Homo sapiens: one gene and its partners. The protein of the gene in region 4 purifies or fractionates together with the protein of the main gene of each other region. This does not show direct contact. Each region holds a gene or a part of one and is shown on either strand. Other genes may lie near its edges.

The links.
Region 1: the proteins of TFDP1 (region 4) and MCIDAS purify together in Homo sapiens (affinity purification with mass spectrometry; one large-scale study listed by BioGRID and IntAct). This does not show direct contact.
Region 2: the proteins of TFDP1 (region 4) and KDM5C purify together in Homo sapiens (tandem affinity purification; one study listed by IntAct). This does not show direct contact.
Region 3: the proteins of TFDP1 (region 4) and ZRANB2 purify together in Homo sapiens (affinity purification with mass spectrometry; one large-scale study listed by BioGRID and IntAct). This does not show direct contact.

Annotation. Positions count from the first base shown.
Region 1 is NC_000005.10:55,224,516-55,228,771, reverse strand, and holds the start of MCIDAS (multicilin), read left to right. Parts: upstream 1-1,456; 5' UTR 1,457-1,633; coding exon 1,634-1,753; exon of another isoform or gene 1,754-1,840; coding exon 1,841-1,937; exon of another isoform or gene 1,938-2,104; coding exon 2,105-2,196; intron 2,197-4,256. UniProt on the Homo sapiens protein: Transcription regulator specifically required for multiciliate cell differentiation. Acts in a multiprotein complex containing E2F4 and E2F5 that binds and activates genes required for centriole biogenesis.
Region 2 is NC_000023.11:53,208,208-53,211,707, forward strand, and holds part of KDM5C (lysine-specific demethylase 5C), read right to left. Parts: intron 3,449-3,500; coding exon 3,290-3,448; intron 2,651-3,289; coding exon 2,469-2,650; intron 2,370-2,468; coding exon 2,207-2,369; intron 1-2,206. UniProt on the Homo sapiens protein: Histone demethylase that specifically demethylates 'Lys-4' of histone H3, thereby playing a central role in histone code. Does not demethylate histone H3 'Lys-9', H3 'Lys-27', H3 'Lys-36', H3 'Lys-79' or H4 'Lys-20'.
Region 3 is NC_000001.11:71,071,036-71,074,535, forward strand, and holds part of ZRANB2 (zinc finger Ran-binding domain-containing protein 2), read right to left. Parts: intron 1,514-3,500; coding exon 1,437-1,513; intron 1,221-1,436; coding exon 1,086-1,220; intron 1-1,085. UniProt on the Homo sapiens protein: Splice factor required for alternative splicing of TRA2B/SFRS10 transcripts. Binds to ssRNA containing the consensus sequence 5'-AGGUAA-3'. May interfere with constitutive 5'-splice site selection.
Region 4 is NC_000013.11:113,587,753-113,591,252, reverse strand, and holds part of TFDP1 (transcription factor Dp-1), read right to left. Parts: intron 1-3,500. UniProt on the Homo sapiens protein: Can stimulate E2F-dependent transcription.

The DNA of each region.
Region 1 (4,256 bases), on a different chromosome or scaffold from region 4:
AGAGCTTCCCTACTCATTTTAAAGGCTGGAAAGTGGGTGAGGATGGGGATGGAGATGGAGATGGACTGGCTAGTGGTCGTGCTACTCAGAAACCAGAGGAAACAGGAGACAGGGCTAGGAACAAGTTGTGGGAAGCTGGAAATACAGCTGAAAAGGCTTTTAAAAAATCACTAATTTACCCATACTAAGCACCAGTCACTTTACATAAATAATCTCACTCATCTTCACAGCAACTCTATTGAGGCCAGTGTAACTTTTTTTCCTAAAGACCTAGGGCTCATGGACCTGGTCCTCAGGCACTCTGACCCTAAAGCCAGAGCTCCTCACCATGAGCCATACCACACCAACTCTAGCTGGCTGACCTCACATCAATTCAGTTTCTGCATCTACTCCTGGGTCAGAGAGTCTCTCACTCTATTCCAGCTCTACCATTGGATTACCTTCCACCGCTGTTAGGGTATCTTGTTTCTTACTAGAGGCTCTTTCACTACGACTACTAGGTATAAGGGGAAAACAAGGTGCCCAACATAGGGGGGTGGGTACACAAAGATTCCAATTTCAGACGACTGTTCAAATTGGATGAATATGAGTGGTACTGAGAAAGGTCCCTCGCCTAAGGATGCCCCTCCCTAGGAGATGCCTCGGACTCAGGAAAATGCCCATTCCTTGGAGAGGTGTTGGCTTGGGAATGGCAACTACGACTGCGAAGAGACCAGCCAAACGTGGCGATGGGCCGCTGAGGCCACTAGGAAAGACAGGAACAGGGTTTTCGGGGATTCGGTACTTTCCACTGTGGCGTTTTCAGAAAGTGGAGGAGGGTTCGTAGTGTCACTTTTTCTTAACGGACGGTCTTTTAAAGGCTGTGCTCACGCGCCACTGCCGAGAAGAGTGCGGGGCTTGGGGAGCGGGGCGGGCTCTTGGCGTCAGGCCAAAAGAGACCACGTGGAAATCCATAAGTCAGGACCCAGGATAAGGTTCAGGTTTGAGGGAAGGGGCTTCTGTAATAAGGGGGCTGTTCCAGGGCATCCCTGCCGGTATTCTACATCCTTACTAAATCCTGCAGGAGCGCAAAGGCCGGAGTCTAGCGCTGGCGGGTGTCACTCCACGTTTATTTCGTGCGCCTTGTGGCTGGAGTGGGAAGAAAAGGAAATAATCGTTAACTTTGCCATTCCCCCTGTCTGTAAGCGGGAAGACGGTACCCAGGGCGAGGGAGACCGGCGTTTGCCCGCCCCTCCTTCTCCCTCTCTTCGCCTGGCGCGTCCGGGAGGCGGCGGCGCCAAAGCTCGCCGAAACGGCGCTGGCGGGCCGGGGCCCCGCGCTGGCGGCTCCCGGGGGAAGCCCGGTTGCCAGGTTGGGTTTAACGCCTCCGCCCGCGCGCAGATTGTCCCGGGCTGAAGGCGCCACCTCTGGCGCTCAGGCGCAAGCCACCCCTCCCGCGCGGCGGTCCTCCCCCTCCCCCGCCATCTCTCAGCACCTCCTCGGCAGCCCCTCGGCTCCTTCTCGGTCACGCGCCTGCCCCAACCTCTGGCTGGCTTCGGAGCCTGCAGGCACTGAAGGGAGTGCAGGGTGTGGATCGCTGCCCCAGCCCGGGCCGCCGCCTCCGAGCAGTCGGCACCCGGAGGCAGGAGGCACAATGCAGGCGTGCGGGGGCGGCGCGGCCGGCCGTCGGGCCTTCGACAGCATCTGCCCCAACAGAATGCTGGCACTGCCGGGCCGGGCGCTGCTCTGCAAGCCGGGGAAGCCGGAGAGGAAGGTGGGGCGGTTGATTCGGGCCGGGCGGGGTCTGCGCGCTCGGTGCCCCGAGGGCTGACCCGCGTTCAACGTTTGTGTGCCCGGCCAGTTCGCTCCTCCGCGGAAGTTCTTCCCCGGATGCACAGGCGGGAGCCCGGTGTCGGTGTACGAGGATCCCCCGGACGCCGAGCCCACAGCGCTGCCAGGTGAGCCCCGTGGCACCCACGCTACCCCTCGGGTTCCCCGCGCCGGGAGGGTGCGGCGCGCACAGCTCGGAGGAGCTTCTCTCCCCCGGGCTCTGACGTCCTAGCTGCGAGCCTGGCGGAGAGGCTCAGGGCCCGCCCGGCGCGTGTCTCCCGGTCTCCCCGCGCAGCCCTCACCACCATAGACCTGCAGGACCTCGCTGACTGCTCTTCGCTACTCGGGTCCGACGCGCCGCCTGGTGGTGACCTGGCCGCCTCGCAGGTACCTCCCCTTCTCGTGGAGCCTCGTGGTTTCACGCAACCCAAACCCTCCTCCGGGGTGGTGGTTTTAATTCCCCAAAAGCTCCTCTCGGGTCGGGAGCGCAGGCACACTCAGCTGGTGAGGGGAAGCATTGTGCAGGCACCTGAGCCTCCCAGATCAGAACTTCTACTTGCATCCTAGTATGTTATGAAGACCACATATCCACTGGAGCTGATTTGACCAACTTGATACAGTCGGGCTCATCTGGAGGCCTCCCCTCCTATTTCCCACCCTATCTACTCTTTGGAGCTGTGACAAGATTGCGCACTGAGAGACCAGGCGGGTGGGTGGGAGCAAAGTTGCGCACTGGGAACCTGTTGCATTCCTATCAGTTCTCCCAACACCCCCTTCCTGGCCATTTTCATTCCGTGGGTATATAAGAAGAGTGGAGGTTGATGGATAACTTCTCTATCAGGACTGGAAAAGAGCAAGAGAATTTGCAGTTGGAAGAAGCAGGAAGGACAAAGGACTCTGGAAGTAATCTTGCAGAAAATGTTCTTCTCTGCAGAGACAGTCCTTCAGCAATTGGGCGCTTTTTCAAAGTCCTGTTCAGCCCTTCGAAAAGCTCTAGTCACTTGCCGTGATGGGGCAAAAAGGCACTTGACTTTTTTCTTTTCCCCAAAACCTGTCTTCTTGCTCCCATCCCACTTCCGCCACTTGCTGGTGCTGACGCTTCCCAGGCAGAGAAGGGAGTCTCCCAGCACTGGTGTCTGGGAGGCCAGAAGCCTGGCTCATGGGTAGGACATGAAGTGCCCAGAGGGACAGGAGGTCTTAAACAGATGCAACCCCCAGGAAAAGTGCCAGTTTCAGCTTGCTGGCAATAGGTCTGGGGTTTGCAGACAGGCCCAGTATGGAACTCTACAAAGAATTGACCACCTCCCAGAACTGGGAGTGCTGGTGGAGCAAAACTCAGCCCTCCTCCAAGGGCCTCCTAGAACCTTGGGCTAGAGCCCAGAGACACTCAGTTTAGGTGGCTGCTGAGAGCAGAGATTGTTAAGGCAAGAGTTGGGAGTGGGCACTGCACTGCAGAGGACATTTAATTGTTCTTTTTAGATCTGGATGATCAAATAAGGAAAGATAATGCCTGAGTATCTTCCAACTGACCCAGAGGCCTAGGTCACTCCCTTACCCCAGCATGTTTATTGTGCAAGTAACAAAACCCAAGCAGCTCTCATTGGATGTTTGTCTAAGTATACAGATTCTACATTTGGCATCATGCTCTTTGTTAGAATTTTTTTCTTGCATTTGTAGTTGGAGAAATGCCAGATTTATCTAATTGGGGAGGTAGAATTCAAAGTTTCATTTTGTTTATTTTCTTTTTCTTTTTTTGAGACAAGGTCTCACTCTGTCACTCAGACTGGAGGGCAGTGACATGATCATGGCTCACTGCAACCTGGACCTCCCAGGCTCAGGCGATCCTCCCACCTCAGCCTCCCAAGTAGCCAGGACTACAGGTGCACACACCACGGCCAGCTAGTTTTTGGTTTGTCTGTACTTTTTGTACAGATGGGGATTCGCCATGTCACCCAAGCTGGTCTTGAACTCCTGTGCTCTAGCGATCTGTCTGCCTCAGCCTCCCAAAGTGCTGAGATTACAGGCATGAGCCACTATGCCCAGCCTCGAAGTTTCAAGGACAGAGCTCACATCAGATGGACCAAAAAATCCAGGAATTTTCCTGGGAAAGACAGAGCTAGTTCAGAGGAAAGAGGCCCCCAGGGGAGAAACACTCAGGGAGACCCCTGGGACACTCAGATCACATTTCCCCATTCCTTTCCTGCTGGGAAAGGTGGACAGAGAGAGGAAGTGCTCTAGAAATGTTTGAGGTTCAGAATGGACCAACACCTGGATTGGCATAAGAGGTAGCATTTCCAGGGCCCCAGTTCCTGAGTTGGCCTCCAGTCTCCTCATGAGACTTTTCTCAAATCCCTACCCAGGAGGAGACCTTCCAGTTATTGAAGAATGAGCCCCTTCAACCAGGGCAGCACTCATGCTCCAGGACTTGTCTGGGGCCCTCAGCCCTT
Region 2 (3,500 bases), on a different chromosome or scaffold from region 4:
CTATAGGAAGGGCAGGGCAGACAGAGGGCTGGGTGGTAAAGTAGCAGCTGGCCAGAGAAGATGATGAGCCACGAGCAGGAGAAATGCTGTGGAGGTGTAAGCAAAAAGCACGTATTTTGGATTCTGTGATAAAGTTTTTTAAAAAGCGGTAAGGACTAAACAGCTCCATGACCTTCTGCATATGTATATATACATATATATACACATACATATATATATATATATATATATATATACACACACACATATATATATATATGCCTCTTAGCTACCCAAATCCTTCAGAGAATCCTTTTTTTTTTTTTTTTTTTTTTGAAATGGAGTCTCTCCACCTGTTGCCCAGGCTGGAATGCAATGGCACGATCTCGGCTCACTGCAACCTCCGCCTCCTGGGTTCAAGTGATTCTCCCGCCTCAGCCTCCCCAGTAGCTGGGACTACAGGCACGTGCCACCACGCCCGGCTAATTCTGTATTTTTATTAGAGACGAGGTTTCACCATGTTGGCCAGGCTGGTCTCGAACTCCTGACCTCAGGTGATCCGGCCGCCTCAGCCTCCCAAAGTGCTGGGATTACAGGCATGAGCCACCACACCCGGCTCTTTTTTTTTTTTTTTTTTTTTTTTTTTTGAGACAGGGTCTCACTATGTTGCCCAGGCTGGAGTGCAGTGGTACAATCTCGGCTCACTGCAACCTCTGCCTCCCGGGTTCAAGCGATTCTCCTGCCTCCTGATCCTGAGTAGCTGGGATTACAGGCGTGCGCCACCATACCTGGCTAATTTTTGTATTTTTAGTAGAGACTGGGGTTTCACCGTGTCGGCCAAGCTGGTTTTGAACTCCTGACCTCAAGTGATCTGACTGCCTTGGCCTCCCAAAGTGCTGGGATTACAGGCGTGAGCCACCGTGCCTGGCCAAGAGAATCCTCTTTTACAGTTTTCCATGGCATTATAGACAAGGACTGATGCTGTGCTATGGGTCAGGAAGAGAGAAGTCTAAGGAAAGTCAGACCCCATGTCTACTTGTAAAGCAGCAGAACTCAAGCCCTTGATCATCATCCTTAAATGGGGTGAGGTAGAGAGAGAAAAGGATAACTCCCTGAGTGGAGGAAGATTGCCTGAACTGTTATAGGACACCTCCTTCTGTCCAATTCCCTAGATATCCCAAGTCCTTGGTTAAATATCACTAAATTTTATAATAAAAAAATATTACTCATGGGGCATATAGTATACCAAAACAAGGAGAAGGCAAAAAGAAATGCAGGTGAGAACCACTGACCTAGTCCAAAGCCCTACTGTACAGATATCTAGGAATATCTGAAGGAGACATTAATTCAGTATTTATTGACTATCTCATACATTAGAGTAAGTGGTAATGTGTCCAAGGCCAAAGAGCGTGGAAGGGTGTAGGGAAGAGTAGCAGCCCCGGATAATACTTAAAGCAGAGATAGAGGATCTACTAATTCCTGTTCTTACAGGACTAGTGATCAGGCTGTTTTAAGATCCACACCAGAAAACTGGCTGATGCTAATCAATGCTAGAAATTCCCAGGAATATAAAGTCTCTCACAGGTAAGCCATGTTGTATACCCAGCAAAATGTTTTAAAGGGTAAGAAAGAAGTACACAGAGGATAGACCAGAACTCTGGGTTCAACTTTTGACCTGTTAAATAAAAAGACCTATCCACTGCTCTGAGAAGGGTAAGAGTATACAAAGTATGGCAGAGGCTGCTAGTTGTACCTCGATATTCATTCTTGTCTTCTGTCATAACAACATGACCTCCAGTTTTAAGTGGTACTTGACCATCCAAAATAAGAATTACATTTCCCAGTTTTCCCTGCAGCTAGATGTGGTCATATGACCAAGTTTTTACTAACAGAAGGTGAATGGAAATGATGTGTGCCTTTAAAAGATTTGTCTAGCCCTGCACTTCCCCACTTCCCTCTTCCACTGGCTGGAATGTAGATGTGATAATAAGCCACCCCTTAGCTGTTACCGTCAAACACATGGCCCAGAGGGCATACCATCATACGGTGCATCTAATCACTATTATTTTGGGTCTCTACTAGACTAGTCAAACCCGTAGCCCAATTAAGAACAGCAATGAAGAAAGGCCAGGGGCAGAATACAGATGACAACCACCGCCACCACCACCATCACAAAGGACATCACTAAATCACTCCTGCCGCTTGTCCCTGTTGCCTGGGTACTCACTGGCACACCATGGGACATGAGGGTGTTGGGATTCATGAGGGTGACAAGTTGGTGCAGGAGGTCAGGCTGGCTATCAAATAGTTCAGGTGTCAGCTTCTTCATCACTTCTTCCAAATGTTCTGCTGCAAGTGAGGGCACCCCATACCAGGTCTTCGGCTCACCCCTGCACAAGTGGAAAAGGGACACACACAGTAAATCACACCTTGGTCATGCAGGGAGCCCACACTGACTTGATTCCCTGGCTCCCCAGGGTCCCACTCACCAGTGGAGGTAGTTAATGGAGTAACTCCAGTGATCCTCAATATGCCAGCAAAAGGCTGAGAAGACCATGCCCACGTAGAGCCAGGGCACCTTCATGCCAGAGATATCTGCATTGATGTGGCACAGTACAGACTGTTCCAACACCGGCATCACATTTAGGTTCCAACCACTGGTAGCATACTCCTGCCAGGTCAGGTATTTGTAAAAAGGGCATGAGGGTTATGCTAAGGAACTGAGATCTTAAGTCATTTTCTTTAGCCTAGGGAACCTTAATTTTGAGGTCAGAGACTTTTTTGAAACATCTTAAGAAACATATAGGTTTTCTCCCTACCTCTCCACCAAAAAGCATACACACAAAATTTCAATTGTATTCACTTCAATTTCTACGAAGTTTACCGATATATCCACCTACCAAAATACCTGCAAGTTAAAAAAATCCTGCTCTGGATCAAAATGTACCCTTTCTTGGAAGCACAACTAGGCCCTCATTTTCTCCTGTGCATACAAACCCCACTCCCTGAACACTACTTATGGATGAGCCAGGATCTCATATACCTTCTCATTTAATTTTTATAACAAATTTGCAAAGTAGATATTATCCCCATTTTAAAGATAAGGAAATGGGCTCACAGAGGCGAAAGAACCCATCTCATGTTTGTACATGCCAGGTACCAGACTGTTTTCTTTCATCTCATCTAAATCTCATGGCTACATAAGACAGGCATAATTATCCTCATCTTACAGAGATACTGAGTTTTTCAGATACTAAATGATTTGCCTAAGCTCACACAGCTGACACGTAACCATGAATCATCCACTCACCTCCTCTTCGGGGGTTAGGTGCCGTTTACTGTCACTGACAGGGAAACCGCTGCCAAATTCTTTGGAATGGATGTCAGCTCCATACTCAACAGTCACATCTTCCTCAATGCTATTTACCAGCCTCCAGAACTCCTTCTCCACAAGTTCTGTGGGCACCATCTGGGGGAAGACAGGTAGCAGATGACTATGGCCCATCACACCCTGGACCCAC
Region 3 (3,500 bases), on a different chromosome or scaffold from region 4:
GTGTTACCTACCAGGAAAGATAAAACAGTTAGGTGTACTGAGCACCTCCATATGCATATATCACAGGTATCTCAGCAAATTAATTCTGAATTCTAAAATTCACCTACTAAACTCATCTCAAATAGAGACTTGACAACTTTGTCTCAGGTATTGCACAGACATAAACCTGGAGGCCATACACACTTTTTCTGTCACACTTATGCATCACCCAAGAATTTTCAAGTCCACCTCCTTAAAAGTCCTTGAAATCACCATTTTTAGTCTTAGACACTCTGTTCCTTATTCTCTAGCATATTATAGTAACCTCTTAGCTGGTCTCCTCAAATCTGAAGATCCATTCTGCCTCTCTAGTATCTCAATATACTGACAGTCATCACTCTGAAACACAGGACAGATAAACACATCTCACTTTTTTCTTAAAAACTTCAAAACTGGCTTATTATTTCTTTAGTTGCATTCCAAGACCTCTTATGATCAGGCTCTAAGGTACCCTTAACATGGCATAAAACTTACACTCTGGCCTGACAGAACAAGTATCACCAGACCTGAAATGTGTGCTGTCCCCCTCATCTCATTCTCCCCTCTGCTCTAACTATACTGGCCTATGTATGGTATTTTTGAAGGCTGCTGGCTTATCTCCTATTTAGGGAACCCGTATTTGCTGTTCTCTGCCTAAATGTGCTCTCACCTCGGCTCTTATTGCTGGCTCCTTCCTATCATTCAAGTTTCAGCTCAAACTTCACCTCCTTAGACATTATCCATCGGCAAAACCAAAGTTGCTTTTAAACTGTTATCACATCATGTGTCTTCATAACGTTACTGCTATCAAAATTACCTATTTATATATTTCCTCCTCTAGAACTGTGTAAGAGAAAACTGGTTCTGTTTCGGTCACCACTGTATCTCCAGAACAGTAGTGTTCCAAGTACAAATAGTACTTGGCAGAGTGGAAATCCAAAACCTTTGTGAGAACAAATGAAAACACAGAATATATTTTCACCAAGTGTCTGAGGCTGTCAAAAGCATTCATGTTATGGTATAACTCCAATAAGACAAAAGGGAAATAGGACAAGAAAATTGTTCACCTCATCTAACTTATATTTAGAAAGATCTTCATCCTCATCCTCTTCTTCTCCCTCTGATTCTTTATCTTCAACTTCCTTTAATATAGATGCAGGACCAACTGCTTTCCCTCTGTATTTTTTCTTTTTACGTCCAAACTAGAGAAAAACAATTTCAAAATGCTTGTCAGCTGATAATGCATTAAACTTAATACATTTTCTAAAAAATTATTTTAGATATTTATGATTTCCTGAAAATGATCAGTTGCTGAAGACTCAAATTGCACTTAAAAAAAAGTTTGTTTTCCTTTGCATTTAAGAATTTTTTCTGTTTTTCTAATTTATATTCAACCTGAACACCAAAATATAGCTTACCTCATCATATTCACCATCAGATTCTTCTCTTTCTATATATTCAACATTTTCTCTTTCATTAAAACCACCACCATATCCTTAAAAAAGAGGGCACAAATTGTTACCCTATGACAATTGATTTAAATAATAAACACATCATGCCCAAATCTCCAGACAACAAAAAACATCTAATCAACAATGGCTGCCTACCCATCTAATAAATTACTAGTCTTTAGAAAGCATATTAGAAATCACCACAGAAAATACAGAGAACTTAGTTGTAACGTCATATGGCTGTACTTCTAGCTCTTTTCAATTCCAAATTGCCCTACATGACTTATTTAATTCATAGAAAGTATTGGTGGAAAACATCTCAAACTTCTGCTATAACCAAGTTTTAAAGGACTTTCCTCTACAGTTAATCGTAATTCTTCTGGGAAGGGTGGGCTCAGTAACAACCAAGCATTAAATTCCACTGTTTACCAACTGCAAATAGTCTGAAATCTTCTGATATTCTGAAATTTTGCTACTTTAAAATGTAGCAGGCCTTATTAGAGCTTGGAAAATTCCTAATTACACAGACAAACACAATAACACAATAAAGGCCATCCTTTGGCCCTGGTTTAATTGGTTTTAACACATAGGTAAAAGTCACACAGGTTCTCTGAAGTAGCCAGTAAATTTTGAAATTAAATGATTCTATTAAAAAGTAGTTGAGATTAGCAAACCACTATTCTCTCATGTCACAACCAATGTATACAATTCAATTGGCAGGTCTCTGACATAAGCTTAAAGGAGAGACTGGAATTAAAGAAAATGAGCTAGTTTTAGGAAAAGTGAGTTGACATATTTTGAAAAAGTCTCCCATTGAAAATTAAAGAGGTATGTGTTGATCAAGAGTAATACAATCTAACTGGTCACATACTCCAGAGCAGTATCAGTACAATAAGGCCGGTGATTTCCAGACTTAGGGACTTCATTCATCAGCAAAATATTAAATAGATTTATAATAAAAATATTTTATAAAAATTAGGACTTGTAACTTAAAATTTGCCTATCATATTTAAAAAAATATTTTTAAAATTTCACTTTCTGAAAAAAACCCACACTAATATAGCATCTTTTCTTCATTATACTTTGTACTAGTGAAAACTTCAAAATACTTGGAAGTTAATAAAAATATTTTTAAACATACGTGGGATCTAAATTGGAAATAATTTACATAGGAAAAAACTGAAAAGTAATATGACAAATATGGAAAGCTCAAAAATATAGTAAAATTAGAAAGTGAACTATAACTCTAGTAGTTAATTTTTCAAAAGTATGTAAATAAAATTATTTTAAGAGGCAGCAAAATAGTCTGCTGACAACAAAGACATTGGTATGTTCTATGAACCCATACAATATAAATCTAGCTCATTAACTCTGTATAAATGGAAAATACACTAGCTCCCTATCGTGAAAAAACTGAAGCATACCATTTTCACTGAATACCTGAGATAGTGGAATCAATGGAATGATATGTATGTTTCCGTCATTCTACTAATTTCAAGCACTTCAGATAATGCTGTATAAATTGGTTTTATTTCCACTCTTGCCGCCACCTCTCCTAATTACTTCTCCACAAACAGAAAGAAGAGTGTTTAATCCATTACTCAGGTAACTCATCTTTCACTTCTTAGCTTAAGCATAGCTTTCCTAAAGAGGACTTCATTAATCTTTGGTGCTGTAAGACTCTTTTGCTCACCTAGGTATCCCCAGCACCTTGCACAGTGGCCTATAAATGTCTTCAAGGAATGAATACAGAAAACACAATTCTGGAATCATCTAATGAATTTGAATTTCTATGGAAAGCTTTAGAAAGCAACCAAGAATTTCCGTAGATTTTAGTAAGTCTTACAATGAATATATTTTCAAATTTGTCTCACAGTATAATGTAAAAAGCTGAGCAAGGGCCAAGAAAGAATCAAACACAGGTTTAAAATGAATGTTTGGATCAAGATTGTGACAATGGAAAAAAAGCGGGAAAGGGGGATGAATATAACATGTACTTCAAAGGAAGAACTAAGGCACTAACAGGAAAAC
Region 4 (3,500 bases):
TCTCCTTCTCAGCCTCGAGAGTAGCTGGGATTACAGGCGCCCGCCACCACGCCCAGCTAATTTCTGTATGTTTAGTAGAGACAGGGTTTTGCCATGTTGGCCAGACTGGTCTCGAACTCCTGACCTCAGGTGATCCACCCGCCTTGGCCTCCGGGATTACAGGCATGAGCCACCGTGCCCAGCAGGGGCAAAACTTTTAATTAACCTATAATTTTCTTTTTCTTTTTTTTTTTTTTTTTTTTTGAGACAGAGTCTCGCTCTGTCGCCCAGGCTGGAGTGCAGTGGCGTGATCTCTGCTCACTGCAAGCTCCGCCTCCCGAGTTCACGCCATTCTCCTAACTCAGCCTCCCCAGTAGCTGGGACTACAGGCGCCCACCACCATGCCTGGCTAATTTTTTGTATTTTTAGTGGAGAAGGGGTTTCACCCTCTTAGCCAGGATGGTCTCAATCTCCTGACCTTGTGATCCACCTGCCTCGGCCTCCCAAAGTGCTGGGATTACAGGCGTGAGCCACTGCGCCCGGCCCAACCTATAATTTTCTAATTTTTAATATCCCTTCAGAGTTTCTCTAACCTCATCCTATGTAGAAAAAAAAAATCCTGAAATATGAAAAGACTCTTGTAAAAACAAGCACGTCATCATAGATTTCTTCAACACTTAAACCTGAGGGGGCTAAACTGACAACCTTCTTAACCTCAAATGTAAAGTTGTTTCTTTATGAGGACAAAAGAAGGCCTGAGTCGCTGAATCCTGTTCCCAGAACTCACTCCTTCAAGCACTGAAGGAAACAGCAGTTTGTTGCTGCATCAGGTTCACCTCTTCAGGCCTGAACTTCACCATCCAGGTCTGTAAAAGGACACCTGGTGGTAGACCCTTAGAGGAGCTCATTGGTCCCCTCTTGGCATTAGCAGAGCCTCGTGACAGCATCACTCAAACGCCTCCATGGTGGGACGCACACAGTTCTCTTGGTCCCCAGCTCTCAATTTCAGGATTTCCCCATAAACTCACAGGACACAAACAGGCACCACAGAACGGCTTTCACAACCAAGGCACGTGAATACCGGGCAGTGACGTCCACAGCCACGTTCTCTGCACAGGGAGCTGACCAGGTCCAAGTGCCCGCACAGCCCAAGAGCGAGTTCAGATGCCCTGCATCTTTACCAATGGCAGGAGGAGCTTGGAGAGGCGAACGGGACCCCAGAAACAGCCCCACACGGGCTACATCCCGAAGTCTTACAGCAAAAGCATCCCTGTAATGTTTGATGAATTCATCATCTGCCTGCCTTCCCACTTACAAACTTTCATGACACTGGACAATCGTGTGTGACGACAGGATGTTCCGAGGTAGGGAGGGGAGAGGCAGAGCTCTGCCTGATCCCACCAAGGGTCATGCTGCCTGGGCAGGCAGGAAACTTGGCCGCAGGCTGAGATGCCAGTGCCAAGCCACACTCCCTCACCCAAGGGCCCTGCCAGCCCAGCTCTAGAACAACTTGAGCCCCTGCAGCTGGACTGACTCGTGACAAGGGTCTGTCCGACTCTAAGGAGGTGCCAAAGCACCTTCCAAGACTGAATCTGAGGACGGTTCCGAGCACCACCGGTACCTGCAACGGGAGCCCACAGATCTGCGGGTCAGAGCCACCCTGTTCAGGAACCAGAGGACAGCCTCCCTAGGCCCTGAGGCGGAGGGCCTGAGATGTTTCGAGGACAGTTCAGAAACTCAAAGAGTCTGTACGGACCTCCCAGGGTGTCTCCAAACTTAAGACAGGACTGCACCTGAGGCTATCACAGACCGGGTGGGCCAGGCATGGAAACAGACAGTCCCCACAGCAAGGAAATCCTCCCCATATTGCCAGGAGCAGCCCATAATCTTGATCATAAATTTCTGTAAGTGATCCATGCTATGCCAGCGCTCCTGCTGGGCAAGACCAGGCCTCAGGTTCCCGGAGCCAGCCAGGTGGCCGTATGGCAGCTGACTCCTGTTCTCCACATTCTCCCACTTAACAGAGTATAAACACAAATATTCCATTTGAATTTACCATTTTAATTCAAATAAGTGCAATAAAATAAAAAGTCCCTGAGCAAGACAACAGAAACCTAATCCTTCTCACCATTTCTCCAGCTGGGCCCACTCAAGGACCATCAAAGGCAGCCACCTTCTAGGCTGTTTCCTCCTTCTGTGACCCTACATCACCCACTCCAGCACCGCCACTCACTCTCCACCCACAACACCATCACCACACTCACTCTCCTCCAGTCTACCACCATCACCACTCACTGTCCACCCACAACACTACCATCACTCACTCTCCACCCACAACACCATCACCACACTCACTCTACCAACTCCACCATCACCACTCACTCTCCACCTACACCACCATCACCACTCTCTCTCCCCCAGTCCTACCACCACTCACTCTCCATCCAATCTACCATCACCACTCACTGTCCCCGAGTCTACCACACTCACTCTCCGTCCAATCTACCATCACCACTCACTCTCCACCACTCCAGCACCACCACTCACTCTCCATCAAGTCCACCACCACTCACTCTCTAACTACTACACCATCACTGATCACTCTCCTCACTGCTCCACAGTCATTTCCTACCCACTCTGCAAACTTTTCAGAGTACCTCTCTCCTCCCTCGTGTGTAGCTCCTTGCCATATAGACCTTCACACCCACTGCCTGTCAACTGCTGTTCAAAGATGACACCCCCAGAGGACTGACCTCATCCTCTTCTTTCTGCCCCTCACTCACATGGAGCCATTTGTGGCCTTTTCCCACCCGCTTGTCTCCCTGTGCCCTACTTGAGGTTGGAAGCTCCGGAGTTGTTTTTCTCTTGTGTTCTCTCCAGAACCTTCCAGCCTCAGGTCTTGGATGTCCTTGTTTCTCCTCCTCCATGGTGACTACCAGGGCCTAGCTCCAGCTCCCTGCATCCTGTGGCCCCTCATGGCCCTCTACAGAGGCCCCAGGGCACTTAGAAGCTGGAGGCCTGCCTCCTTCAACCCAAGTGGCACAGCTTTCCCCCAGCATAAAGGCTTTTGACATACACCTGTGGTTTTACTGCAGTACCAGTGCTTTTAAAAACCTAACTGGTGGGCTGGGCACAGCGGCTCACGCCTGTAATCCCAGCACTTTGGGAGGCCGAGGTGGGTGGATCCCCTGAGGTCAGGAGTTCAAGACAAGCCTGGCCAACATGGTGAAACCCCGTGTCTACTAACAAAAAATTAGCTGGGTGTGGTGGCGCGCCTGTAATCCCAGCTATTTGGGAGGCTGAGGAGAAGAACTGCTTGAACCCAGGAGGCCAAGGTCACAGTGAGCTGAGGTCGCGCCATTGCACTCTAGCCTGGGCAACAAGCAAAACTCCGTCTCAAAAAACAAAAACAAAACACCTAACTGGTTATCGATGTTCCCTTCTGCAAAAGCTGCCAACATCATCTTTTCAAAACTCAAATGTCACACCTCTACTTAAAAGAGTTAGCTAGGCCGGGCGCG